Linked DNA regions of Homo sapiens: region 2 is linked to region 1. Evidence: fine-mapped expression QTL. A gene starts in region 1. The other region holds a variant in brackets. All regions are shown on one strand. Distances are from middle to middle. Region 1 holds the start of SMARCA4 (SWI/SNF related BAF chromatin remodeling complex subunit ATPase 4). Region 2 overlaps SMARCA4 (SWI/SNF related BAF chromatin remodeling complex subunit ATPase 4).

Region 1 (8,982 bases):
GTGCACACCTGTGATCCCAGCTACTCAGGAGGCTGAGTCAGAAGAATCGCTTGAACCCGGGAGGCAGAGGTTGCAGTGAGACGAGATCGTGCCATTGCACTCCAGCCTGGGCAACAAGAGTAAGATTCCGTCTCAAAAAAAAAAGAAAGAAAGAAAGAAAGTTCCACCAGACATCTGCCCAAAACCCTAGTCCCTCCCATGCTCCCACCTCCCACAAACAGCCAAAACATGGAATGGTCTAAGGTTATCTCCTGGTGTTTTGAGGGTTCCCAAGGAGAAGCAAAGGTACACAAATAAATTGTAAATAAATACACATATGTTGGAATGCTCCTCACTGACAAGAAGTTTAGAGACCACTGCACTGCCCTATATCACAATTCTGATGACATCACCTCCCCTGCTCAAAAGCCTGCACGATCAACATTTACGTCTCCTAAAGGGCTGGACACAAAATGATTTTAGGTGGCCCATGCAAAACCATTTATTACTTTCCTAACTATGCATGAATTAATTTTTATTCCTTTTTTTAGACAGGGTCTCGCTTCGTCACCCAGGCTGGAGTGCAGTGGCTCAATCATGGTCCACTGCAGCCTGTACCTCCTGCCCCAGCCTCTCAAGGAGCTTGGGACTACAGGGGCATTGCACTCCAGCCCGGATGACAGAGCGAGACTCCGTCTCAAAAAAAAAAAAAAAATCAAGTGTTCACTACGCATCAGGTGCAGCAGTGTGTTAGCGGCTTCCCATGTGACCTCATTCAACCCTCACAAGAAGCCTGTGAAGTTTCGGGCATCCTCGTCCTACCTGTTTCACAAGTGGGGGGCCCTACTGCTAAGCGCCTCGCTTGAGGTTAAGCTACGATTTAGAGAGCTGGGTGTGAATTCAGGAGGTCTGATTCCAGAATGAGTACTCCTTACCACCACCCCACGCTAACCACCACCCCACACTTTGTAGGGGAGATGAGGACAACTGAGGTTCAGGAAACAATGGCTTGGAAAGTGCAAAAACTGTTCAAACAACTAACCTGTATCCCTTACAATCCACCCCCAGTCCTGCACCAAGCTTTCTTTTTCTTTTTTTTTTTTTTTTTTTTTGAGACAGTCTTACTCTGGTGCACAGGCTGGAATGCAGGGGCACAAGAATGGCTCACTGCAGCCTCCACCTCTCTGGCTCAAGCAGTCCTCCTACCTCAGCCTCCTGAGTAGTTGGGACCACCGGTGCATGCCACCACACTCGGCTAATTTTTGTATTTTTTGTAGAGATGAGGTCTCACTATGTTGCCCAGGTTAGTCTCAAACTCCCGGGTTCAAGCAATTTTCCCGCCTCAGCCTCCCCAAGTGCTGGGATTTCAGGTATGAGCCACTGCACCTGGCCCTGCACCAAGCCTTTTACACAGATGGTCACGCGATCTTCCACAGGACCCCCTCATTCAATCCACATAAGTTCGCTAAAGACCTACTATGTGTCAGGCCCAGGGTACTGTGGGGCCAGCCAGGCAGACACAACCCCAGCTCTCACGGTGCTGGGGGTGACAGCTACACCGGAAAGGACCAAGTTGATGTATGAATGTAGCTGAGGGGAACAATGGCTAGTCCGAGGTGGCCAGGGAAAGTCAAAATACAATCCTGGCGCAGTGGCTCACACATGTAGTCCTAGCACTTTGGGAGGCCGAGGTGGGTGGATCACCTTAAGTCAGGAGTTTGAGACCAGCCTGGCCAACATGGTAAAACCCCATATCTACTAAAAATACAAAAATTAGCCAGGCGTGGTGGCGGGCGCCTGTAGTCCCAGCTACTCAGGAGGCTGAGGCAGGAGAATCGCTTGAACCCAGGAGGCGGAGGTTACAGTGAGCGGAGATTGGGACTCTGAACTCCAGCCTGGGCGACAGGCAAGACTCTGCCTCAAAAACAAAATACAATCCTACACACCCTCCCTGATTTTGAGGCCCCCTCTTCCAAGCAGCCCCCGTGATCTCTGGCTACCACCGATCCCCTGCCTGTCCGCTGTGTCCCTCTCACAGTGCAGGTTCAGAGCAATAAACGATAGGCCAAGAGAGTTTGTTCCCACATTTACCACCCGCTCCCCTCCAAGACTGCAGAGGCTCCAGGATCCAACCCCCGACCATCCAACACTTAGTAGGGCCTCAAGAAGTTATCTGCTGAACAATGAGGGAGATTGGACCAGACAATTACAATAGTGCTTCCCGCTTGCGAGGAACCATTTTACAGGCTTTCACCAATTCCATTTGGGAGATTACCCCCTTTCACAAAGGAGCTTTCACAAAGGAGGAAAACTAAGAGGTTCAGAGAGGTTAAGCCACTTCCCTAAAGTGACAGTGTGCTAAGTGACTGACAGCACCAGGAATCAAGCTTGAATGCAGCCTATCAATCCAAACTGAAAACTTGCTTCAAATTCCTGCGAAGCGGCTTTTCCGCTTATTCCCTTGCTACTTTCCCCAAGGAGTCACTGACCAAAAAAAAAAAAAAAAAAAATCAAGACTGGTATCTTCAAGATCGGGACAAAACACTCGCCCAAAAGGTCCACGTTGAAAATAAAAGCCTTAATCTGAAAAACCAATTGGGAAGGAGAAAAAAGGATGCAAAAGAAAAGCAATGCTTTTACACAGCAAAGGATTTCCTCCGTGCTCCCCTACTTGCCGCCGACCCCATCCCCAACCCCAATTCGGGCAAACATTTTGAAGTCACTAACTGCAAGGCATCGGGGGAGTCCTTTACCTTTCCTTGAAAATCTGGAATGACACGTTTTTAAGACAATTTGAGGTCGGCTAGCCCAAGGGGACCGCTAATGCCCGTGTCCGGCCGACGCCGGACATATCTGGAGGTTTGGCTGAGCCCCGATCGCAGCTTCGCCAAAAACGCAACATTCGGGTCGGACCCGTTACCACGCAGCCAGAAAAGCCCCAACGCCTGCCTATTGTTGCAGCCGCTGTAATTGGGAGGGCGACTGTAGGGGTGCCGGGCGAGGGGGGCGAGCTTTGTCCGGCGACCCCGGCGAGAGCGCGCGCGGAGAGGATCGCGCGGCCTCCACGCGGCCCGGGCCCCCCACCCACCCCGCCGCTCCGCGGGGGCCGCCGCTGCCACGGCCTCGCGACACTGTGGCCTTCCCCACGCGCGCGGCTGCCGGCTGGGCTTCTTGACCCTCGGGCGCCGCCGTACCCCGGCCCCGCACAGGGCGCGCCGGCAGCCCCCTCCCCCCTCGGCGCCCCGGCTCCATTCAAACCGCCCTCCCCGGCCCCGCGCCGCGCTGCCCCCGCGGCCCGCGTTCCTTACCAGGAGCCGCCGGCGCCGTCGACTTCCCGGCGCCTCCCCCGCCCCTCCGCGCGGGGCCGGGGGCAGAATGGGCGTCTCGCTTCTCTTCACGAAACAAAGAAGCCGCCGCCGCCGCCAAACGAGGGGAAGCCTCGCGCGCGCGCCCGCCCGCCTCGGCCACCGCCCCCCCTTCACACACACGCGCGCCACCCGCGCCCCCGCTGCGCGCGCGCTCGCCGGCTCCCCTCCCCCTCAGCACCGCGGCGGCCTCTCCAGCTTCCGCCGCCTGCCCGGCCTCGTGCGCGCGCCAGCCCGCCCTTCCGCTCCCGGCGCGCGTGCGCGCCCGTCCCTGGGCGGACGGGGGTGGGCGTGGCCCGGAGGAAGCACGCGCGTCCGATGCACCGCCCCACTCGGGCCGCGATGGCCCCGCGCCTGCGCACGCTTCGCCTTCTGCACGCCTCGCGTCTTGACGCCCCGGAGCATGCGCAGAGCGGACGCCACTGCGGCGGCGGTGGCGGCGGCCGCGGTGACGATGGGGCAACTGGAGAATGGGATCCCGGTGGCCGTGGGGTCCGTGGGGAAAGGAGGTCCCTGAGGCTCGGAAATAGGAACCCTGGACCGTAGGACGGGCCGCCTGGACCAAGACCGGGCAGTGGTTTCCCGCGGGCCAAGGGCGCGCCTGGGAACCGCTTTGATCCCTGACCTGGGGCGGCGAGGCCTATTTGGGGAGGCAAGGCGGGGCCCGACCGTGGCCGCCTTCTCTGCAAAACTTCCCAAGTGCCATTAATTAGCTTAGCAAATATTTATTGATCTGCTACTGTGTCCCAGCCGCCGTGGAGCCCTCGGTCTAGTGGGGAAGGAGGACAAGAAGCAAGATTAATAAGCAAAATAGTGCAGTATGAGAGGCCGGACTTGGTGGCTCACGCCTGTAATCCAGCACTTTGGGAGGCCGAGGCGGCCGGATCACCTGAGGTCGGGAGTTAGAAACGAGCCTGACCACCATGGTGAAACCCGTCTCTATTAAAAATACAAAAATTAGCCGGGCGCGGTAGCTCATGCCTGTAATCCCAGCACTTAGGGAGGCCTAGGCTGGTGGATCATGAGGTCAGGAGATGAGACTATCCTGGCTAACACGGTGAAACCCCGTCTTTACTAAAAATACAAAAAATTAGCCGGGCGTGGTGGCACACGCCTGTAGTCACAGCTACTCGGGAGGCTGAGGCAGGAGAATCGCTTGAGCCCAGGAGGTGGAGATTGTAGTGAGCCGAGATCGTACTATTGCACTCCAGCCTGGGCAACAAGAGTGAAATTCCGTCTCAAAAAAAATAAATAGTACAGTGTGAGGTGAACACTGGGAGGATCATGGACATTTTAAATAGGGCAGCCACGGAAGTCGTCGTTGCAAAGAACACGTTTGAATGCATACAGGCTGGTGGTGAAAGAGAGAAACCTTCCTCCGAGAGTGAAGGCCCTGAGCCTCTTGGCCTCTTCTGTGTGTTTTCTTTTTTGTGTGTTTGTTTGTTTGTTTGTTTGTTTGTTTGTTTGTTTTGAGACGGAGTCTTACTCCATTGCCCAGGCTGGAGTGAGGTGGCACGATCTCAGCTCACTGCAACTTCTGCCTCCCAGATTCAAGCGATTCTCCTGCCTCAGCCTCCCGAGTAACTGGGACTACAGGCGTCCGCCACCACGCCCGGCTAATTTTTGTATTTTTAGTTGAGACAGAGTTTCACCATGTTGGCCAGGCTGGTTTTTAACTCCTGACCTCAAGTGATCCGCCCACCTCAGCCTCCCAAAGTGTTGGGATTACAGGCGTGAGCCACCTCACCTGGGTGGGTTTTTGTTTAATTGTTTGTTTTATTAGAGACAGGGTCTTGCTCTGTAACCCAGGCTGGAGTGCAATGGTGTAACCACAGCTCAGTGCAGCCTCAAACTCCTGGACTCAAGGGATCCACCTCAGCCTCCCAAATAGCTGTGACTACAGGTACATGCCACCACCACCAGCTTTTTTTTTTTTTTTTTTTTTTTGTCTGTTATGTTCTGTAGAGCTGAGGTCTGCTGTGTTACCCAAGCTGGTCTCAAACTACTGGGCTCAAGCAGTCCTCCTGGCTCAGCCTCCCAGTGCACTGGGATTACAGGCATGAGCCACCAAGCCAGGCCCCAGAAGGACCTGGGTTTAAAACACGACTCCATTTCTACTACCTGGGTGATGCATGGGTAATACCAGGCAGGTTTACCAGAGCATCTACACCTCACTTTCTTCACCTGTGAAACAAACAATAAGGCTGGGTGCGGTGGCTGACATCTGTAATCCCAGCACTTTCGGAAGCCAAGGTGGGCAGATGACCTGAGGTAAGGAGTTCGAGACCAGCCTGGCCAACATGGTGAAACCCCGTTTCTACTAAAAATACAAAAAAATTAATTAGCCAGGCATAGTGGCAGGTGCCTGTAATCACAGCTACTCGGCAGGCTGAGGCAGGAGAATTTCTTGAACCCAGGAGGTGGAGGTTACAGTGAGCCAAGATCATGTCATTGCGCTCCAGCCTGGGTGACGAGAGTAAAACTCCATCTCAAAAAAAAAAAAAAAAAAAAAAAATGCTGGGCCCAGTGGCTCACGTCTGTAATCCCAACACTTTGGGAGGCCAAGGCAGGTGGATCATGAGGTCAAGAGATTGAGACCATCCTGGCCAATGTGGTGAAACACCATCTCTACTAAAAATACAAAAATTAGCTGGCTGTGGTGGCGCGTGCCTGTAGTGCCAGCTACTCAGGAGGCTGAGGCAGAATTGCATGAACCCAGGAGGCGGAGGTTGCAGTGAGTCGAGCGTGCCACTATACTCCAGCCTGGTGACAGAGGGAGATTCCGTCTCAAAAACAAAACAAGACAAAACAAAAAAAACCCACCAGAAACAATAATGGCTCCCACTTCCACTGTTTGGTTATGAGGAATCATGACAGCAGGTAGCCCACCTGCTAGCTCTCTGATCCTCAGCTAGTGTTATTGAATAGTGCACAGTAAGTGAGCAAGTAGAAGTGGGATCTGAACTCGATTCCTCATTCATTCAAGTAGTTATTTTTTTGTTTTTTTGTTTTTGTTTTTGAGACACAGGCTTGCTGGGTCATCCAGCCTGGACTGCGGTGGCACGATCAGTACTCACTGTAGCCTCGACCTCCTGGGCTCAAGCGATCCTCCTGCCTCAGCCTCCCGAGTAGCTTGGACTACAAGGGTGGGACACCACACTCAGCTAATTTTCTTAAAATTTTTTGTAGAGACAGTCACACTATGTCGTCCAGGCTGGTTTCAAACTCCTGGGCTCAGGTGATCCTCCCACCTCAGCCTCCCAAAGTGCTGGGATTACAGGCGTGAGCCAAGGCGCCCGGCCAAATAGTATTTCTTATGCTCTCTCCAAATGCTAAGCATTGAGCTAGGAATACCCTGCAGCAATGCATGGAGGAGGCAGGGTTGCTGCCCATGGAGTGGATGGTATGACTGTTCTCTAATTGTCTTTTATGCTAATCACACTAATATGCAATAGTGTAAAGAAAAACAGGCCGGGCCAGGCGCGGTGCCTCACGCCTGTAATCCCAGCACTTGGGAGGCCGAGGCAGGCGGATCACCTGAGGTCAGGAGTTCAGGACTAGCCTGACCGACGTGGAGAAACCCTGTCTCTACTAAAAAAATACAAAATTAGCCGGGTGTGGTGGTGCATGCCTGTAATCCCAGCTACTTGGGAGGCTGAGGCAAGAGAATCGCTTGAACCCAGCGGGCAGAGGTTGCGGTGAGCTGAGATCATGCCGTTGCACTCCAGCCTGGGCAACAAGAGCGAAACTCCGTCTCAAAAAAGAAAAACAGGCCGGTTGTGGTAGCTCATGCATGCCTATAATGGCAGTACTTTGGGAGGCCCAGGCTGGCAGATCACTTGAGGACAGGCGTTCAAGACCAGCTTGGGTAACATTGTGAAACCCCATCTCTACAAAGCAATACAAAATTTGCCAGGTGTCTCAATTAAGAGCACAGTTCTTAATAATGAACTGCCCCTGGGACCTTGGCCCCATGTCTGCATTGACACCCTTGGCTTCCAGACTTTAAAAAAAAAACATCTACAGGCTGGGCGCAGTGGCTCACGCCTGTAATTCCAGCACTTTAGGAGGCCGAGGCAGGCAAATCACAAGGTCAGGAGCTCGAGACCAGGTCAATATGGTGAAACCCTGTCTCAACCAGGCACGGTGGCTCACGCCTGTAATCCCAGCACTTTCTCTGGGATCGCAAGGTCAATATGGAGTTCGAGACCTGGTCAATATGGTGAAACCCCGTCTCAGCTGGGCGCAGTGGCTCACACCTGTAATCCCAGCACTTTGGGAGGCCGAGGCGGGCAGATCACGAGGTCAGGAGATCGAGACCATCCTGGCTAACACAGTGAAACCCCGTCTCTACTAAAAATACAAAAAAATTAGCCAGGCGTAGTGGCAGGCGCCTGTAGTCCCAGCTACTCAGGAGGCTGAGGCAGGAGAATGGCGTGAACCCGGGAGGCACAGCTTGCAGTGAGCTGAGATCCCGCCACTGCACTCCAGCCTGGGCGACAGAGCGAGAGTCTGTCTCTAAAAAAAAAAAAAAAAGAGAGACCCCGTCTCTATTAAAATACAAAAATTAGCCAGGTGTGGTGTCAAGCACCTGTAGTCCCAGCTACTCGGGAGGCTGAGGTAGGAGAATCGCTTGAACCCAGGAGGCGAAGGTTGCAGTGAGCCAAGATCACACCACTGCACTCTAGCCTGGGCGACAGAGACTCCATCTCAAAAAAAAAAAAAAAAGAAGGGGAGGAGAGGGCAGGGCAGGGGAGGGGAGGGGAGAGGAGGGAACGGGAAGTGGGGGAGGGGAATCATCCCAGAGGAGAATGGATTTTTTTTTTTTTTTTTTTGGCGCAATTTCCGCTAACTGCAAGCTCCGCCTCCCAGGTTCACGCCATTCTCCTGCCTCAGCCTCCTGAGTAGCTGGGACTACAGGTGCCCGCCACCACGCCAGGCTAATTTTTTGTATTTTTAGTAGAGACGGGGTTTCACCGTGTTAGCCAGGATGGTCTCGATCTCCTGACCTCGTTATCTGCCCACCTTGGCCTCCCAAAGTGCTGGGATTACAGACATGAGCCACTGCGCCCGGCCTTCTTCTTTTTTTTTTTTTTTTTTGTTTTTTGAGACGGAGTCTTGCCCTGTCACCCAGGCTGGAGTGCAGTGGCTCAATCTTGGCTCACTGCAACCTCCACCTCCCACCTCCCAGGTTCAAGAGATTCTCCTACCTCAGCCTCCTGAGTGGCTGGGATTACAGGTGGATTCTTCTCTTTTACTCAAAGATGAGGGCTTGAAATAACAACTCACCCAAGTCCAGAACATGAAAATGTAAAATACATTGACTTCAGTTGCCACTGCAAGTTAAACACCTTTTCAGTAATATCTCCAGATCTTCCTTGGAATATGAAATCACTCATTAGTTAACAAAATGTGCATTTATTCATCAAAAATGACCTCTTGTGCCTGGGCACAGTGGCTCACACCTGTAATCCTGGTATTTTGGGAGTCTGAGACGGGCAGATTGCTTGAGCCCAGGAGTTCAAGACCAGCCTGGGCAACATGGCGAGACCCCATCTCTACTAAAAATACAAAAATTAGCATGGCATGGTGGTGAGCACCTGTAATCAGAGCTACTCCGGAGGCTGAGGCAGGAGAA
Region 2 (16,663 bases), 63 kb before region 1:
AAATTCTTGTAGCTATGTAACAGCATGACCTGGTATCCACCGATGCCGAGGCCCATGAGGGGTACATGGTTATGGAACAAGAGGAGGAAGTAAACGAAGTGGCATGGAGTTTACCCCCAATTGTGTCTGAACAAGCGCCAGTGTGTGTGCTCACAGGGCACACTGCAGGGGCCGCCCCACAGTGACGGCGCAGATTGATCAGGATACTTTCCACCTCCTCATGGGTGCCATTCCAAGATTTAAGAAAAACCAAACCGACGGATGGCTTATACACTGCTTTCCCAATCAGAGGGAAAGGCTGTTTGTATTTTGGGAAACAGGAGGACCCCGCCTCTTTTCTCCCTGATGACCTATGGAGATATGGGTGCAGCTCCTCCCGGCTCCTGGGGTCCAAGACAATGTGGAGGAGGCTGGAGGACCCTCAAGCCAGGGCCGTCTCCTCGAGGTTTTGCAGGCACCCCCTTCCTTCTCCTCGACCTGGGGCCCGGCCCGCTTTTACCTGGTGAGGATTCCAGTCGCTGTCAAAAATGATCACAGTGTCTGCCGACTGGAGGTTCAGGCCGAGCCCCCCAGCCCGGGTGCTGAGCAGGAAGATGAAGTACTCAGAGCCGGGCTCGTTGAAGGTTTTCAGCAGCATGCCCCGGTCCTCCGCCTTCGTGGTTCCTGACGGGCACAGAGGAGAACAGGGTCAGCGGGGTGACCTCAGGGGTAGAGTGGGGACACCAAGGAACACCTGCTTCTGAGAGCAGGAGCAGGATCAGCACCTGCCAGCATCCCCAGATCCCTGGCTCCGCACTCTCCACACGGGCCTGTGGGCCACTGGCGAATAACTGGATTTCCAGTGTTTCACCACAAAACGTCTCTCCACACATCCCAGAAATGAAAACAGGCCCCGCTGGGAGAACTAGAGGAGGTGGGCCTGGAGCACAGAGTCCAGCACCCAGCCCACAGCTAGGCCACAGCGTCCAGCGTCAGCACAGCCACCACCACCACAGCCCTGGATTCTCTCCTCTACTCTACCCTGTGCCATTCCATGGGGAGCGGAAGACACAGCGGCCAATGCCGGCAACACCGCCGCTCGCAACACAAGGGACCTGGGGGTGGGTGGACAGTGACTGTGGGTGCACCTGCCTTCAGCCCTGTCTCAAAAAGTTTTGTGGTTCACAAAGAGAATCTTCTACGGTAAAAGCATGGAGACCTTATAAAGGGGGCTCGTGTCCTTTCTGGCAGGATCAGTGTCCCCATGCCCCAGAAAACCCAAGTCAAGGAGCCAGAGCAGGTCTCCTGGGTGACAACCCACGATGCCCTCAGCGTTGTGGGCATTAAGGCAATGTCAACACTCCCTGCGCTGCTGGGAGTTCGGACAGAGGTGCCCCTGAACACTGAAGTCATTTTGGTGATGAAATAAAAACTGGCAGGCCGGGCGCGGTGACTCATGCCTGTAATCCCAACACTTTGGGAGGCTGAGGTGGGTGGATCGCCTGAGGACAGGAGTTCGAGACCAGCCTGGCCAACATGGTGAAACCCCGTCTCTACTAAAAATACAAGAAAATTAGCTGGGCGTAGTGGCGGGCGCCTGTAATCCCAGATACCAGGGAGGATGAGGCAGGAGAATCGCTTGAATCCAGGCGGCGGAGGTTGCAGTGAGCTGAGATCATGCCACTGCACTCCAGCCTGGGCAACAAGAGTGAAACTCCGTCTCAAAAAAAAGAAGAAATAAAAACTGGCCATTTCCTGCCACCAGCCTACACATGCCCAGGCACGGTGCAGAAGCCCACAGTAGCCTGGCCATCCACCTGCCGTCCCACCCTCTCTCAGGCACCAGATGTGCCCCTGCTACTCCAGCTCGGAGGAGGGGCTGAGGTGAGGGGCCACCCGGCTCCCAGATGCCAGCCCACCCATGGGAGATGCAGTCTCAGGAGACTTCACTGAGCTCCTACCCTTCCTCTACTCGCAATGGATTCTCTGGCCCTGTGGCCATGACCACATCACATGCAGAGGACACATCTGTAGTTCAACTGACCAAAGTCCTTGTCCTTATGGAGTAGGCAGAAGGGCACTGGGATGGGTGGGAACCAGGCTCTCTCCTGGGGGAGTCAGGGACACGACACAGACGGGATGGCCCTCAGGAAGCCTTGGCCCTCTCGAGGACGGGAGAAGCCGCTGGAGAGACCGTAGGAGAGGAAAGGGTGGGGGGTGGCCCGGCCATGAGGACCCTGAAGGATTTTGGTTTTCAGCCTCAAAGCTGAAAGTGGGAAGCCCCCAAGGAAGAAGGCAAGCCGGGGAGACCCCTGCAACAGACTCGTGTCTGTAGAGTGGTCCTGGACAGAACCCCGGGGAGGACCTGCAGTTTGGAGGGACACACAGGGCACACTCCGGGTGGCACCTGGGCAGGTTGGCCCAGCAAACACAGGTCCAAGTGATCAACGGGACAAGGGGTATGGAGGTCTGGGGTGTCCTGCTGTGAGACAGACCTTGCACAGGAGCTTCAACAAAGGCTCTGGGAGGTCGTGTAGGGAACAACAAACTGGCTGAGCCGTGTCTGTCTCAGCAGCTCATGCTCGTGTTTCTCGTAAGCCCAGTTCTAGTAACTCCCACGAAGAACTCACTCCAGGGCTCCCTGACCCACTGGGACTGACAGACATGTCTCACGTGCCCTGTCGGCATCTCACAGCCTCTCCTCCCTGAGCTCCCGTGTGCTGGGGCAGGCAGGCGCAGAAACACAGGCGGTGACCTTTCCCATCAGGGACCGCAGGGCAGGGGGTTGGGCTGAGAGCCTCTCTACGGCAGCTGCTGCTCCTGCCTGGCAGTGCTTGCTTCCCTCCCTCCGTGCTCACCACAGAGTCTGATTCCAGGTCCAGGCCTGACCTGTGGCAAGGTGGCAGTCACTGGGCTGCTACGAATGGCCCAGGGATGGGCATGCGGCTCACAGCAGCTAAATGAGAGCCAGCCTGGGACCTGCCTTTGTTGGGGACACTGAGCAGGTGGAAAGGAAGCCAAGATGGAAGAAGGCAGAGCAAAGAGCTGGAGAAAAGTCTCTCCAATATCACCTGCATGCCTGGATCCAGCTGTGCCTGAAGGATGTTTAACCTCCTGGGGTTAGAGCTATGTAAGCCTATTGGTGCTTTCTTTCCTGTGTCCACATGGTATGGAATTCTGTCACTTCCAGCTAAAAGTGCACAGGGCACCCCTTCCCCAGTGCGCCCAGCATTGTCGTGGAAAGACTGTCAGCCTAGGAGTCAGGACACCCGGCGTCCAATCCACGGCCTGTCCCAGTGCCGAGTGCCCAAGATGCTCAGCCTGTGGCTAGGCCCACTCTGGCCACTGGACCCAGAGCGCCTGGGCCTCACCCTGCCTCACAGGAGGGAATGCCAGTGAGGAGCTTCTGTGGCAGCCACAACAACAAAACCCTGTAAGAAACGCCTCACTGGCTCATACTCACCATCAAGCCTGAGGTATTTAAAGCCGCGATACGCAAAGTAATCTTCCATGATGGTCATGAGGGAGGTCATTTGGCAGAACAGCAGCACTTTGTGGTTGGTTGCTCGGAGTTTGGGAAGAATTCTATCAAGAAGCTCAAATTTACCCGAGGCTCGGTACAGGTCCAGCCTGGAGTGTGGAGGAGGCAGGAGAGAAGGCGCAGGATGTTAAACCTGGAACCCTGCAGGCAGGTAAGGCAGGAGGTGCATCGCCCGCCTCCAGGCCAGGCGCCGGGTTCAAGGGCACAGACATGCATCCTAAGCAGACGTCACCCACCCAAAGCTTCAGCAAAGCCATTTCCCCCAACTGAAATAAGCCCGGCCACCCTCGCTGGGGAGGCGTATCACCAGGGTGGCACATGTATTTCTCGTCAAACCCAGACACTCATGAAAATGAGAGGAGCTGTGAGTCACATGGCCGGCACAACACGGGGCTGGAACAGGGATGCTCCGGGAAGCCAGACCTTGTCCCCTTGCCCGATAAAGAAGCCCCAGGAGCAAATGCCACACTGGAGACACCCATGCTCTGCTAGACCCAGAAGGAAGGGCCACCTCGGCTTCTCATGTTCTCTCCAGCCAAACCCCAAGTGTTGTAGATGTGGACACTGAGGCTGGCAGGGGGACGACGTGATATGGCTGACCACATGTCCAAGCCAGGCCTCCCAGCCTTGAAGCCAGGTGTACAGGACCCTGTTCCACAACTCAGTATAAAAAAACACATCAAAAAGAATTTGTGATGTTTTCATTAGGCGCCTCTCTTCTTGCAAATGGCTTACTACCCCAGGGGAATTGAATGGAGGCTTTAGCTGGAAGAATGCTTTTAGCAAGGTTCTTTGCAATGGTGAAAATCTAGACACAGCATCCACATCCATTAGGGGCTTAAAGGAGTCTGGGCTGCCCCTTACAAAGGGTGCTATAGAAAACACCCACATGATGTAAAGAGTGCCTCTGTACTAGTGAGCAGAGTTTAGGCTCAGAGAGGTTAAGAAAGCTGTCTAGAGTCACAGAGCTTGGAGGCGGCAGAGTGGGATCTGTAAGCCAGGTCTGCCTCAGGAATCCTGTCTCTTGGGGTTAATAGTGGTCAGCTCTCCAAGCACTAAAGATTTGTATAATGGGGCCGGGCGCGGTGGCTCACACCTGTAATTCCAGCACTTTGGGAGGCCAAGGCGGGTGGATCACTTGAGGTCAGGAGTTCAAGATCAGCCTGGTCAACATGGTGAAACCCCATCTCTACTAAAAATACAAAAAATTAGCTGGGTGGTGGCAGGTGCCGGTAATCCCAGCTACTCGGGAGGCTGAGGCAGGAGAATCATTTGAACCCAGGAGGCAGAGGTTGCAGTGAGCCGAGATTGTGTCACTGCACTCCAGCCTGGGCAACAAGAGCAAAACTCCACCTCAAAAAAAAAAAAAAAAAAAGATTTGTATTATTTGCTTTGGATTCTTCTGTATTTTCTAATTTTCTGCCTTTGAAATTGGACAACATAACAGCAGCAATAAAGCCAACAAAACGACAGAAAACCTCTGGGTGGACCACCTGCCCACCCCATCCAGTTGGGAAGCTTCTCACCCTTGGACAATGCCGCCAGTGAACCCCAAGTGCTCGGAAAAGGACTCCTGCAAGGCAAGGAGAGAGGGGTCAGTGACAGGCAGGAGCAGGCCACCGGGCCCCGCTGCGGTCCGCACACACCGCTCGTGCTCAGAGGACAAAGCCCCCACACTGTGTGCTCGGCACGGGCCCACGGCGGCTCTGAGACCAGACACAGATGCCAAAACCATCTTTCTTAGTCCACTGACATCCTTTCCCTCACACTCCTCCAACGAAGGAAAGGACATCCCATACAGCACTCTTCACACCCTGAATGCACGAGGACGTCATGGGGCCACAGCCACGCTCAGGGTGCTGAGACAGCCCCAGGGGCTCTCGGGGCAGCAGGCGGTCTCCAACGACCCTGACACTTTACACCAAGAAACACGAACATATGCATGCTTCTAAGAACCCAGATTCTCAAAGCCACCATGACCAAAAAGGGTTCTGACTCCCCCACACTTCACTGAAGACGGTGGTGACTCTTGACGCCCCGCAACGTGAGAAAAGCCAGTGAGCCAAAGAGACGCAGCAGGACCCCACTGTGGGGGGACACATCCCCAGAGAAGTCTCCAAACGCTCCTGCTCTCTGAGGGCAAGCTTTCAGGGCCCTATATTCCTATCGCACGTTGCGCCCTAACTGCTGGGATTCTTCCCGTAAGCACTGGTGAAGCGAAGACCAAATGAGAGACAGATGTACAGGCATTACCTAATGAAAATATTCGAGTCTGTTTTTAAAGAGCTGTCGAGGAGAAGCCAGCTCTGCCTAGGAGCTCAGCAGACAGCAGGGCCTGAGCCGTCCCAGCCGCGGCGGGCTCACCTCGATGTGCTGGAACATGTAGGGGTGGTTGCAGATCTTCCGCAGCTGCATGATGGTGTTCATCAGGGTCTTGGTGCCGCCTTTGCCCTGGAAGGCAGATGAGAGGGACCCAAATGGGGTCTTGCCCTCCTGGGGTGGGGTGGGCTTGGTGGATGGGTGGGTGTTGGGAGAAGGGCCATGGGGACGCTCTAGTGGGGAAGAGTGGCTTTTGGCACAGCAATTGGGAGTGAGGAGATGGCAGGCTGGAGGCCCGGAGGCCCCCAACAAGCCCTGGGAAACAAATGACTGCCTGGCACAGCAGAGGGCAGATGGCAGGGACAGGGCCAGCAGGACGGGACGGAAACAAGACTGGCAAAGGGCTGAGGCAGAGTCCCCGATGCTTTGTGATGCCAGCTTTGTTCTGGGCACTGTTACTGTGGGGGTCCCTAGAGGGTCTCAGCTGGGCAAGAGGGCCTCAGCCGGGTGAGCCATGACTCAGGGCTCCCTGGGCTCCAGGATGAGGAAGGAGGTGGGGGCGGGGCGGGGGGTGCATGCTCTGGGCTGGGAATGGACTAGGGAACACACTGCTGCTCAGCTCAGGGGAGAAGGGGCACAGACACAACGTCTCGGGGAAGCCAGGCCGAGGTCAAGGCCTTGGGGGCAGAATCAAGGGGTCTGGTGCATTTCCTGGGAGGATAATTTCACTGCTGGTGAGGAGAGCCAGGCAGGTGGGGCCTGGGGCCTGGGATTCTCAGAGCAGCCCCTGCAGGAGACAGCCCGCTCCCTTCCTTTCACTTAATAACAGAGAAGGGGGGCATTCTAGAACACTCTAACCCTGCTGGGGTTAGTGCTGGGCCCAGGCTGCCAATTGCAGAAGGAGCCAGTGTTTCATAGGCAAAGGAGAAGCCACTGGCAGCTGAGTCAGTGTGTCCTGACACAAGCCACCAGCCATCATAACCAGGGCTGGCCAGATGCCCTGGGGATCATGACCAGATCATGACCCGATGGTCAGAGCACGCTCTGCTCTGCCTGCCACGCTGCCGGCCTTGGACACCCAGTGGGGAATGCAGTTGGGGGACTCTGGGGCCCACCTTCTTGTCCTTCTCGGAGCCATCAGTCAGCAGCACGCCCTTGGCCTGCATGTGGCGGTAGAGCACTCGCTGCAGCGCAGACATGTCGCACTTGATGACGTACTCCACCTGCAGGGGACACATAATGCTCACGAGGGCCCAAGGTGGCTTGAGGCCTGACTCCCCCCATCCGAACCCAGCTCTGACCCCCTCGGCCCTGTCATATGAGCTCTGACCAGAGCACACTGGGGTGTGGGTGAGGAGACCCTCACAGCTGGGGAGAAGAGGGGAGACCTGGGCAATGAGAGGAAGCACCAGGCAGAGATACCAGAGGGTTACTGGGCCAGAAAGGGCCCCCCAGCCATCTTCTGGGGGCCTCTCTACAGCCAGCCAGGAAACAAAGAGCCAAGAGGGACAACTGCAGCCGGGGACCCCGAGTCCATGGGTCTTGCTGTGGGAACTGGGCCCAGGGGTGTGGCTGCAGCAGGCCTTGAAAACCCAGAGCCATGATGGGGGGCCGGGGGGCAACCCCAAGCCCACGGCCCCTCCTGATGTGGCCAGGAGAGCCCGCACAGGCACCTGGCCCCCTGACAGGAAGTGGGATTTTGTGCTCTAACCTATTGTGAGCTATGTGAGCCTATGAGTGCTTTTCAATCCCTACAACAGCAGCACAGGGCTTTACAGACCCAGTGGCGTCATCGCCACCCCCAAGCTGGATTGACCAGGGCAGGCCTGGGACTGTGGGGAGAGGCCCTGAGCACGCCCAGCCCTGGAGAAAGCCCCCACGTGAGGCTGCTTCACTGGTGGCTCCCCTCAAAACTCCATCACCTTTTCGGGCAACTGGGCCTCGACTTCCTTCTTGAGTCGTCGGAGCAAGAAGGGCCGCAGCACTTTGTGGAGACGCCGGATGATGAGAATGGTTTCCTCCTCATTCAGGTCCACCTGGAAGCCCCCAAGACAGGAGAAGCAAGCGTTACCTCCAAAGGAGGGCGACAGAGGTCTCACTAGAAGGTGCGGATGTGGGGACAGGGTGGACGGGGTCCCCTGGGGTGATCTTGCCCTTGGCACGTGGCTTTTCAGCCTGCTTTATGCTTTCTGGGAGCCAGGCAGGGCACCCTCTTCCTTAGGAAACTGTGAGGATCTGGTTCCCTCCATGTAATTCCTGGGACATGGAACCGCAGTACCCAGAGCACTCTGCTCCCTGTGCCTCACCAGAAAGACCCCCGGCAGCGGGCATGCTGCTTCTCCACGAGTAACACAAACTGGAGTGTCCACAGACCCACCCCACGCCAAGCTCATGCCAGGAGCGCTGCAGGGGCCAGGCTGACCACATGGGGCTTATAGCGGGTGATTCTCAGGGAGGGCTCTGCCACCGGGAGCCCCAAGGGACTCTCATTCAGCCTGGGTGGAACCAGGTGAAAGAAACCCTGACCTCCCACGGCGCCTACTCCTCTACTAATAATTAACTTTTAAAATGTTTTAATTAAAAAAGTTAAAGGAAAATGAGACGACGCCAAAACTTTTCTTCTATTGCTTCCCTGGCAATCCTTTGGCAGAGCTTTTGCTCGGCTCAGAAAGTGACAAAACTATAGCATCAGATCCTGGCCCTTAGTGTGGGGGTCCCGGGAGTCTAAAAATTGGGGACTCCTTTATCACGAGGCTTTGGGGAATGCCTCGGTTTCGCCATCAGAAGAGTCTCTGCCTTGACCAGCAGCCGAGAGGGCAGGGAACTCACGCATGAGGCCAGGAAGGCCCCAGCTGCCCTGGACCTGTCTAAGGTGGGAAGAAGGGGGTGGGCCCAGCCGTGCTGGGCAGGGCACTTCGAGGTAACCTCTGTAGTTCTGCCCACACTTCAGCATCTGGTTACTTAAACCCCTCAGCAGGAAACACAGTCTGTCCCACAGTTTCAACCTCCAACAGCAAGGAGCTCTAGGCTCAGGGATCAGTGCTGGTGTGGGACCACTCATCAATGATGATGCTGCCATGCCACAGTCTGGCTGATGGTGCCACCCAGACATTGAGACACACTGGCCACTGAGCTTTTTGAAAACAACGTAAGACAGAACCTGACCATGTGGCCCCGCTAACTGGAATCTTCCAAGTTTCCTTCCCACTGCCCTGAGGGTGAGTTCTGAGGGCACCTAAAGGGGCCTACAGCACGCTACAGCCTCTAGCTGTGCTCTCCACACGCTTGCGGTCCCACAGCTGCCTCAGGGCCATCTTCCTCACCATCCACTCTGCACCTGGAGCATAGGGTCAGAGACGCCCCGAGCATTCCGAGATTCACCACCATGACCTCTGCCCTGCTCCCCTGGGGCCCTTGTGGCTGCCCCAGCCTTGGGTTCCAGGGCTCCCCTGCTCCATGCAGATGCAGACTCTCACCAGGCACCCAGCACAGGCCCAGCCAGCTGTAGCTGGTGCTCAACACGTTCCAACCAGCAAAGCCAGCCGCACCTGGAACCGTCAGCATGGGCACAGCTGGGCAAACCCACCTTTTCCCCGGTCATGGCAAAGGGTGCGTTAAACCACTGCTCGAAGGTGCTGCAGCTCTTGAAGATGGTGGGCAGCAGGAAGTTGAGCAGCGCCCAGAGCTCGGGAAGCTTGTTCTGCAGCGGTGTGCCCGTCAGCAGCAGGCGGCGGGGTGCCACATAGTGCGTGTTGAGCACCTGCGTCAGCTTGCAGTGGTGGTTCTTCATGCGGTGACCTTCGTCCACAATCATGTACTTCCAACGGATCTGCGGGCCCCAGAGTGGGCAATCAGGGCAGGGGGCAGCAGGTGGCCCGGCACATGGGGAGAATCTCCCACTCTGCGCCCAGCAGCCAGGAAGGCTCCAGGTGGAAGAGCGCAGCTGGGTGGAGAGCACAGGCCTGACGTCCTGCCCCGGGGCTGACTCACCGAGTTGGAGCCACACAACGTAGCCTCTTGCAAGCCTTGGGCAGAGACAGGCCCGTGACCCCATGACTATTGGCAGGTGAACAATGCAAATTGCAAAAAAGCAATCTGGCTTCCCTGCAAAATCACACATATGAATCTACAGCACAGAAAAATGCCGAG[C/T]ACGTTCTGGCAGAAGACACATCTTGCTGACTGGGGGACTTGTCCTGCTGGTGTGGAGGGTCTCAGGGGAACTGGGTTGGTGACGGTACATTTCTAATGAGCAGCCTGTGGTTCAGAATGTGGGCCCCATGGGGTAGGGGCCAGCGCCACTACATACAGGGCCATGCGGGTCGGGAGGGGGCGCAGTGGCCGCACTCAAAGAGCACTCCCACTGCAGGGTGATTACATCAACTGAGCCACTGGCAGGGGAGCACGGGGTTTCAGAGCCTGGTTCCTGTGCCTGCCAACGGCCTGGCTTTGTAAGGAGTCAGCAGGGGTGAGCCACAAAGGAGGCACCTGAAGCATGGACCTGAGGTAAGAGCCTGCACGTGGGATACCCAGCTCCCTGGGCCTCAGTTTCCTCCCTTGTTGGCTCCGGGATAAAGCACCCAGTCCTCGGAAGGCTGAGGCAGGAGAATCACTTGAACCCAGGAGGCAGAGGTTGTTGCAGTGAGCTGAGATCGCTCCACTGCACTCCAGCCTGGGTGACAGCTGTGAGACTCTGTCTCAATAAAAAAAAAAAAGAAGAGAAAAAGAAAAGAAAACACCCAGTTCACAGCCCCAGTATTCCAGTACTGTCACTCCAGCCATGCACTGAGAGGCGGAGCCACCCATAAACAGCTCCTCCATCCCCCCATACCTGGGTCAAGAACTCTACTGTTAGGCCAGACACAGTTGCCCAGTGCTTTGTGAGGCCAAGGCGAGAGGATTCCTTGAGGCCAGGAGTTTGAGACCAGCCTGGGCAGTACAGCAAGACCCCATCTCCATAAAAAATAAATTTAAAAAAGTTAGCTGGGAGTGGTGGCGCACACCTGTAGTCCCAGCTACTCAGGAGGGTGAGGTGGGAGGATCGCTTGAGGCCAGGAGGTCAGGCCTGCAGTGAGCTGTGATCACATCACTGCACTCCAGCATGGGCAACAGAGCGAGACTCGGTCTCAAAAAAAAAAAAACCAAAACGCAAAAAACTCTCTACTGTTCAACACTCACTCAGCTGGATGTTTAGGGGTGAGACCAGGTACATCTTTACCCCTCCTCAAATGAGGAACATGAGTTTTTGGAGGCAGAGGGCTATGTCTGTTTTCTATCTGGGCCGTATTCTCAGTCATGGCCACGCTGGGACTCCCTTCACAGTTTCGTCCCAGAAGAGGCTTCCAGGACAGTAGGACCCTCACAGAACAGCCCGAACCAGCTGCCCAAGGCCAGCAGGCAGTCATGGTATTTGGCCCTCGAGCTCTCCCCCACATGCTGAATCTCAGCCCATGGCCTGTGGTGAGAAGCCAGGGCCCCAGGGAGGGACGGCCAAGGCAATGAGACAGGAGGACAAGACTGGTCTGGCCAAGGCCCCATGGGGACTCTGTAGGCGGGTCAGGAGACGCCTTGGTGCTGAGGCTCTCTGGGCAGAAGGCCCGAGAGGAGGCAGAGCGCATGCTGTGTAGATGGCCCCAGCTTCTGGGCCTGACTCAGGGCCTGCCTGGAGACAGTTAGGGAGGTAAACCTGAGGTCGCCCCCACCTAGGCCTTTCCCCTACACAGGGCAGCTGTCTTCACGCACATGCAGGTGGGACTCCGGGAAGAAACTTGTAGGGGCTTTGGAGGAGACGGGCAGCGTGACCCACGTGTGAGCACTCGGCCCATGGCCTGGCATTTCCCACAGGGACACGTTACCTTGGCGAGGATGTGCTTGTCTTTGATGATGTACTCGTACGTCGTCAGCAAGACGTTGAACTTCCCACTCCGGAGCTGGGGGACAAAGGCCCGTCTTGCTGCTGGGGATCCCTGCAAGGGAAGCAGGATGCACAGCTCGGCTTTTGGAGCCGGGTGGCCAGGTGGCAAGAGGGGCACAGGCACCCCCTGCAACTGCCCAGTGACACGGCGGGAGGGCTCGTCCTCACAGGGGTAGTGGGGAAAGGGGCTGGCAGGGCCGCTGGCGCGTCCCCAGACCTCACCACGCAGAACACGCGCTGCAGGGGGAAGAGGAAGCAGTGCAGGCCAGCGGCGGCCGGGGCCTGAGGGAACCACGCAGCCTGCACCGCCATCTGCACATTCCTGGTGGCTGACAGGCTCCCCTCTTCCTGGGTCCCCATCTCAGGCGCCTGAGCTGGCCTCTGAGTGCTGGCCACCATGCTCACTCCTGTCTCCTCCCCAGTGAGCTAATCTGCCCTGTCCCTGCCCAGTCCAAACTCCCGGATCCATGTGACTGGAGTTCCAGGCTGTCCTGGAGACTCCATGCGACTGGAGACCCAGCATTCTCAGGTTCACTGTCCAGAGGTATGTGTGGACGTCCTGCCCACCACCGCCTGCACCTCCGTAGCAAGAGAGGAAACCTCAGTGGCTGTGACCTACCTTGTAAGACACCTTCACCACGGAGGGGGCCCACTTGTCAAACTCGTACGCCCAGTTGGACAGCGTTCTGATGGAACAAGGAAATGAGAGTCAAGTGCCGGTCTCTCATCAATGGCTCACTGTGCAAACCCATAGCCACTGGCTGTCAGGGGCGAGGCCAACATGGCCACAGCCCTCCGAGTGGGCAGAGAAACTGTGTTTAGGGCAGCTGAGGGAGGGAGGGAGGAAGAGAGACTGGCGAGGACGTGAAGGGCTCTGCCTCAGAGGACAGAAGGGAGGCCACTGGGAAAAGAGGGCAAGGCCCTTTAGAGTGAGAAGTAGGGACACAGAGATGTGATGGGGGACAGAAACAATGCTGCCAGGGCTGGGGAAGCCTGGACCTGCTGCCGGGAAAATGCAGCTTCAGAGCACAGGCTTCACGCCCAGAGCCAGGCTAGCAACAGTGCTGTGGAGACCTGAGGATATAGGAGACACCAAACAGTCTTTCTGCCACCCTCCAGCCACGGAAGGTTCCTGACTGTGAGAGAGAACGAGGACAGTGAGGGGCGAGGCGGGGCCTGGCTCAGGTGGCAGGCGGGAGGACAGGGATGGGAGGGAGCGGCAACTCGTGGCTGTTCCCCTGTGGGATGACCAGGGCTGGAATGAGGGAGGACATGGGGGCAGGCAGAATGCAGTGGGGAGGGGTGAGTCACCTGAGACCGACAGCCTAGAGACTGAGGAGAGGGTGGAGGCGGTAATAAAGCTGAGTCCCAAAGGGGACGGGCTCTGGGAGGAACTCTGGGGCAGGGAGTTTTCAGTGGGGGAGGGAAGCCACTCAGAAAGTCTAGACGGGGTGGTCCGTAAAGACAGGGCTCGAAGCTGGAGTCCCAGGGACTACTCGTGGTTTGCCCCCAAGCAGCTCCACGAGGGAGGTGCTGTGTCCACCATGAACCCATCTCCAGCCCCGCTGGAAGCCACAGCCAACCAGGCGGCACAGCCAATAGACAGAAGGACGCATGGCTGTGGTGAAGGCTGGGGAGAGTTCCTGAAGAAGCGTGGGGAGCAGAGGCTCAGCAGCCTTGCGCTTCTGCTGCCTTTTGCCCTGCCCACTCTCCTAGAACTCTTTCCTGCCCACTCTCCTGCATGAGGCGAGGGAGGCAGTGCAGCCGTCCTGCAACCATGAGGTAAGGAGCCTGAGGGTTGGAGTCACCCAAGAATGACTGGGCAGAAACCTGGGGGAGGCTGGGTCCCTGATGGCATCTTGGAGCCACCGGACCTGGCCCGTAGGGCCTGACCCTGTGCTTCCGCTGACTCAGGAACAGTGAAACCTCCCTGGAGTGATGGGGACAGTCAGCGCACCAAGGGAGAAGCCGGAGGTGTGCGGAGCATCTGCACTGGGAGGGAGAAGAGCCAGGAGCAAGGGTCAGGAGGGGACTGAGGGGACAGGTCCCAGAGACAGAGGTCCAAACGGAGGCAGGACAAGCAGCTCATGGCAGGAGGCAGCAATTCCCAGTGAGAGGGCCGGCACAGCCGGATGCCCATACGCCGTAAACATTTCCTAGCGCGCGGGCCCTCTTCTGGCCTGCAGGAGCTGGCGTTCCACAGCATGGACGCTTGCCCAGGTGGGGCGCAGTGGGAAAGACTGCAGGAGCACCCACCTCACAACCTCACTGAAGTAGGGGAAGAAGGTGACCTCTATCACCCTGGAAATGGAATCTGACTGCAATCTGGAGGTCTGAACACACAAGGAACTGGCCCCAAGGCCTGCGCTCTAGTGGCTCAAGATGCTTCCCGGAGGTACCGGCTCACTACTCTGAAACTGTTGTCCACGGAAGCTGAGAATGGGCGCACACACAGGGTGGAAGTGTGAGAAGGAACCTGTGGTCCTCACTCAGAGCCGCAGACAGTGGTATGAACTCACGTTCAGCTTAACACAGAAACAGATGCCGAGGCAGAGAAGGCCTTTTAGACGATACGTGCACAAAGCATCAGCACGCGCACATGAATCTCCTAGCACTGACCACTGAGAGGGCCCCAGGAGCAATGACACCCCAGAAGCAACAGGCCCATCCAGGACCCAGGTCTTGGTTCCCAAAACCATTCTGTAAGAAGGGAAACCAGGGCTCCTTGGAGAAATGGCTGATTTGAGGGAGTGGGCGGGAAATAGACTACATGAGCCTGCAGCATCTCTTGGTGCCAAAAAGCAAGAAAGTCCTCAAAATTCACCCGATGCTGGGGGCGTGTCAAAGGACAGAAGAGCCAACTGAAAGCACTCCCAGTGGCCAAAGCTGGATGGATTTGAGCCACAAAACAAAAAAAACCCAGCCACTGGTGCGTAGCCTGGAGTACTAAATAAATATCCGTGGGTCCATACTCATATTAACAAATGACTGAATACATAGAGAAGACACAATTCTTCCAGGGAGAATTCTCCCAGGCCAAATCTGAAAAAAACTGAAGCAACAAAATAAATAATATTTGTTCACGCCCACACTGATATAATAATTACCCAAACAAGCACATGGGGGAGACGGGAAAGCTCTTCCTAACGGTGGAATTCCAATTAATTTGTAGAGAAGAGCGGACAGAAACAGGTAACCATGTATTTGGCAACTCTCATGTAATTATTTTTTCAGGCAAGACTTATCTGACGTTTGCTGCTATAGTTTGGGTATCTGGCACCTCCAAACCTCATGCTGAAGTCTGATTTCCAATGTTGGAGGTGGGGCCTGGTGGGAGGCATCTGTGTCATGGGGGCCTCCCTCGTGAACGGCCTCGTGAACCCTCGTGAACGGCCTGTACTGTACTGGGGATGGGGGATGAATGAGTTCCTGCTCTCTGAACTCTCGTGGGAGCTATGGTTAAAAGGAGCCCGGCACCCCCGCCTCCCTCGCCTCCTCCCTCCCCATGGGATCTCTACACACTGGCTCCCCTTTGCCTTCCACCAGGAGTGGAATCCGCCTGAAGCCCTCACCAGGTGCCCAGTCTTCCAGCCAGCAGAATCATGAGCCAAATAAACCTCTTTTTTTTTTTGAGAAGGCGTTTCATTCTTGTTGCCCAGGCTGGAATGCAATGGCACGATATTGGCTCACTGCAACCCCCGTCTCCCAGGTTCAAGTGATTCTCCTGTCTCAGCCTCCTGAGTGGCTGGGATTACAGGCATGCGCCACCATGCCTGGCTAATTTTTTTTTGTATTTTTGGTAGGGACAGGGTTTCACCATGTTGGTCAGGCTGGTCTCAAACTCCTGACCTCAGGTGATCCGCCTGCCTCGGCCTCCCAAAGTGCTGGGATTACAGGAGTGAGCCACCGCGCCCAGCTAAACCTCTTTTCTTTATCACCTAGTCTCAGGTATTCCTTTATGGCAACATGAAATGGAGTAGAAGAGATGCTGAAATTATTGAGGAAAGTAGGAAGAGAAATGAGATATTCACAAGTGTCGAAGTACGTTCCCACGAGACAGTTATTAACGGAAAGTGTAACTCCTAGGTTTACAGTGGGAAACCCAGCAGGCACCTTGCCCGAGACACCAAGGCCTCAACATCTCATGCCTTCCCCGCTAAGGCACATCAAGCAGGGCGTGGTGTTGCTCCACGCGATCACATCGGACAAACCCAAATTGAAGGAGAGTCTACCAAAGGTCCGATCAGGATTCAACAGCGTCAAGCTCGACCAGGACAAAGACGAAATGAGGAACTGCCACAGGCATGCCACACAGACGTGACAGTGTGGGATCCTGGACCAGAGCAAGGCCACTTGTGAGAAAACTGACAAGATTGGTAAATAAGGCCTCTGGTTTGCTATTAGTCCTACGTCCATGTTATCTTCCTGGTTTTCATAATTGTCTTGGGGTTATGAAAGAATGGGGAAGATGGGTGAAGGGTGCATAGCAATTCTTTACACTAACTCTACAATGTTTTCTAAGAATGAGGTCGCCAGGCACAGTGGCTCACTCCTGTAATCCCAGCACTTTGGGAGGCCAAGGCGGGCAGATCATGGGGTCAGGAGTTCAAGACCAGCCTAGCCAACATGGAGAAACCCTGTCTCTACTAAAAATGCAAAAAAGTTAGCCGGACATGGTGGCGCGTGCCTCTAATCCCAGCTACTCGGGAGGCTGAGGCAGGAGAATCGCTTGAACCCAGGAGGCAGAGGTTGCAGTGAACCAAGATGGCACCACTGCACTCCAGGCTGGTCAACAGTGCGAGACTCCTCAAAAAATAAAAAAAAATAAAAATAAATGAGATCATTTCAAAATGAAAAGTTTAAAAAAATTTTTTAAAGCAAAAAATTAACAACTAAGAACCAAGGCTGCAAAA

The links. PIP is the estimated chance that this variant, and not a neighbour inherited with it, causes the effect.
Region 2: its variant is fine-mapped to the expression of SMARCA4 in whole blood (INTERVAL, PIP above 0.99).

What each region holds. Positions count from the first base shown.
Region 1 is chr19:10,955,480-10,964,461 of GRCh38, reverse strand. It overlaps SMARCA4 (SWI/SNF related BAF chromatin remodeling complex subunit ATPase 4), which reads right to left and starts at 3,432. Exons shown (of 35, transcript NM_003072.5): 1 at 3,288-3,432. RefSeq lists an enhancer at 418-547 and silencers at 3,065-3,124, 3,175-3,234, 3,285-3,704.
Region 2 is chr19:11,014,730-11,031,392 of GRCh38, reverse strand. SMARCA4 (SWI/SNF related BAF chromatin remodeling complex subunit ATPase 4) reads right to left here. Exons shown (of 35, transcript NM_003072.5): 17 at 12,370-12,436; 18 at 11,692-11,802; 19 at 9,426-9,668; 20 at 7,762-7,875; 21 at 6,955-7,062; 22 at 5,885-5,971; 23 at 5,047-5,093; 24 at 3,443-3,609; 25 at 500-663. Among named protein-coding and RNA genes, the nearest start is that of SMARCA4, 62 kb to the right of the region's middle. RefSeq lists an enhancer at 2,749-3,249. The variant C/T (reference allele first, on the strand shown) is at 9,989.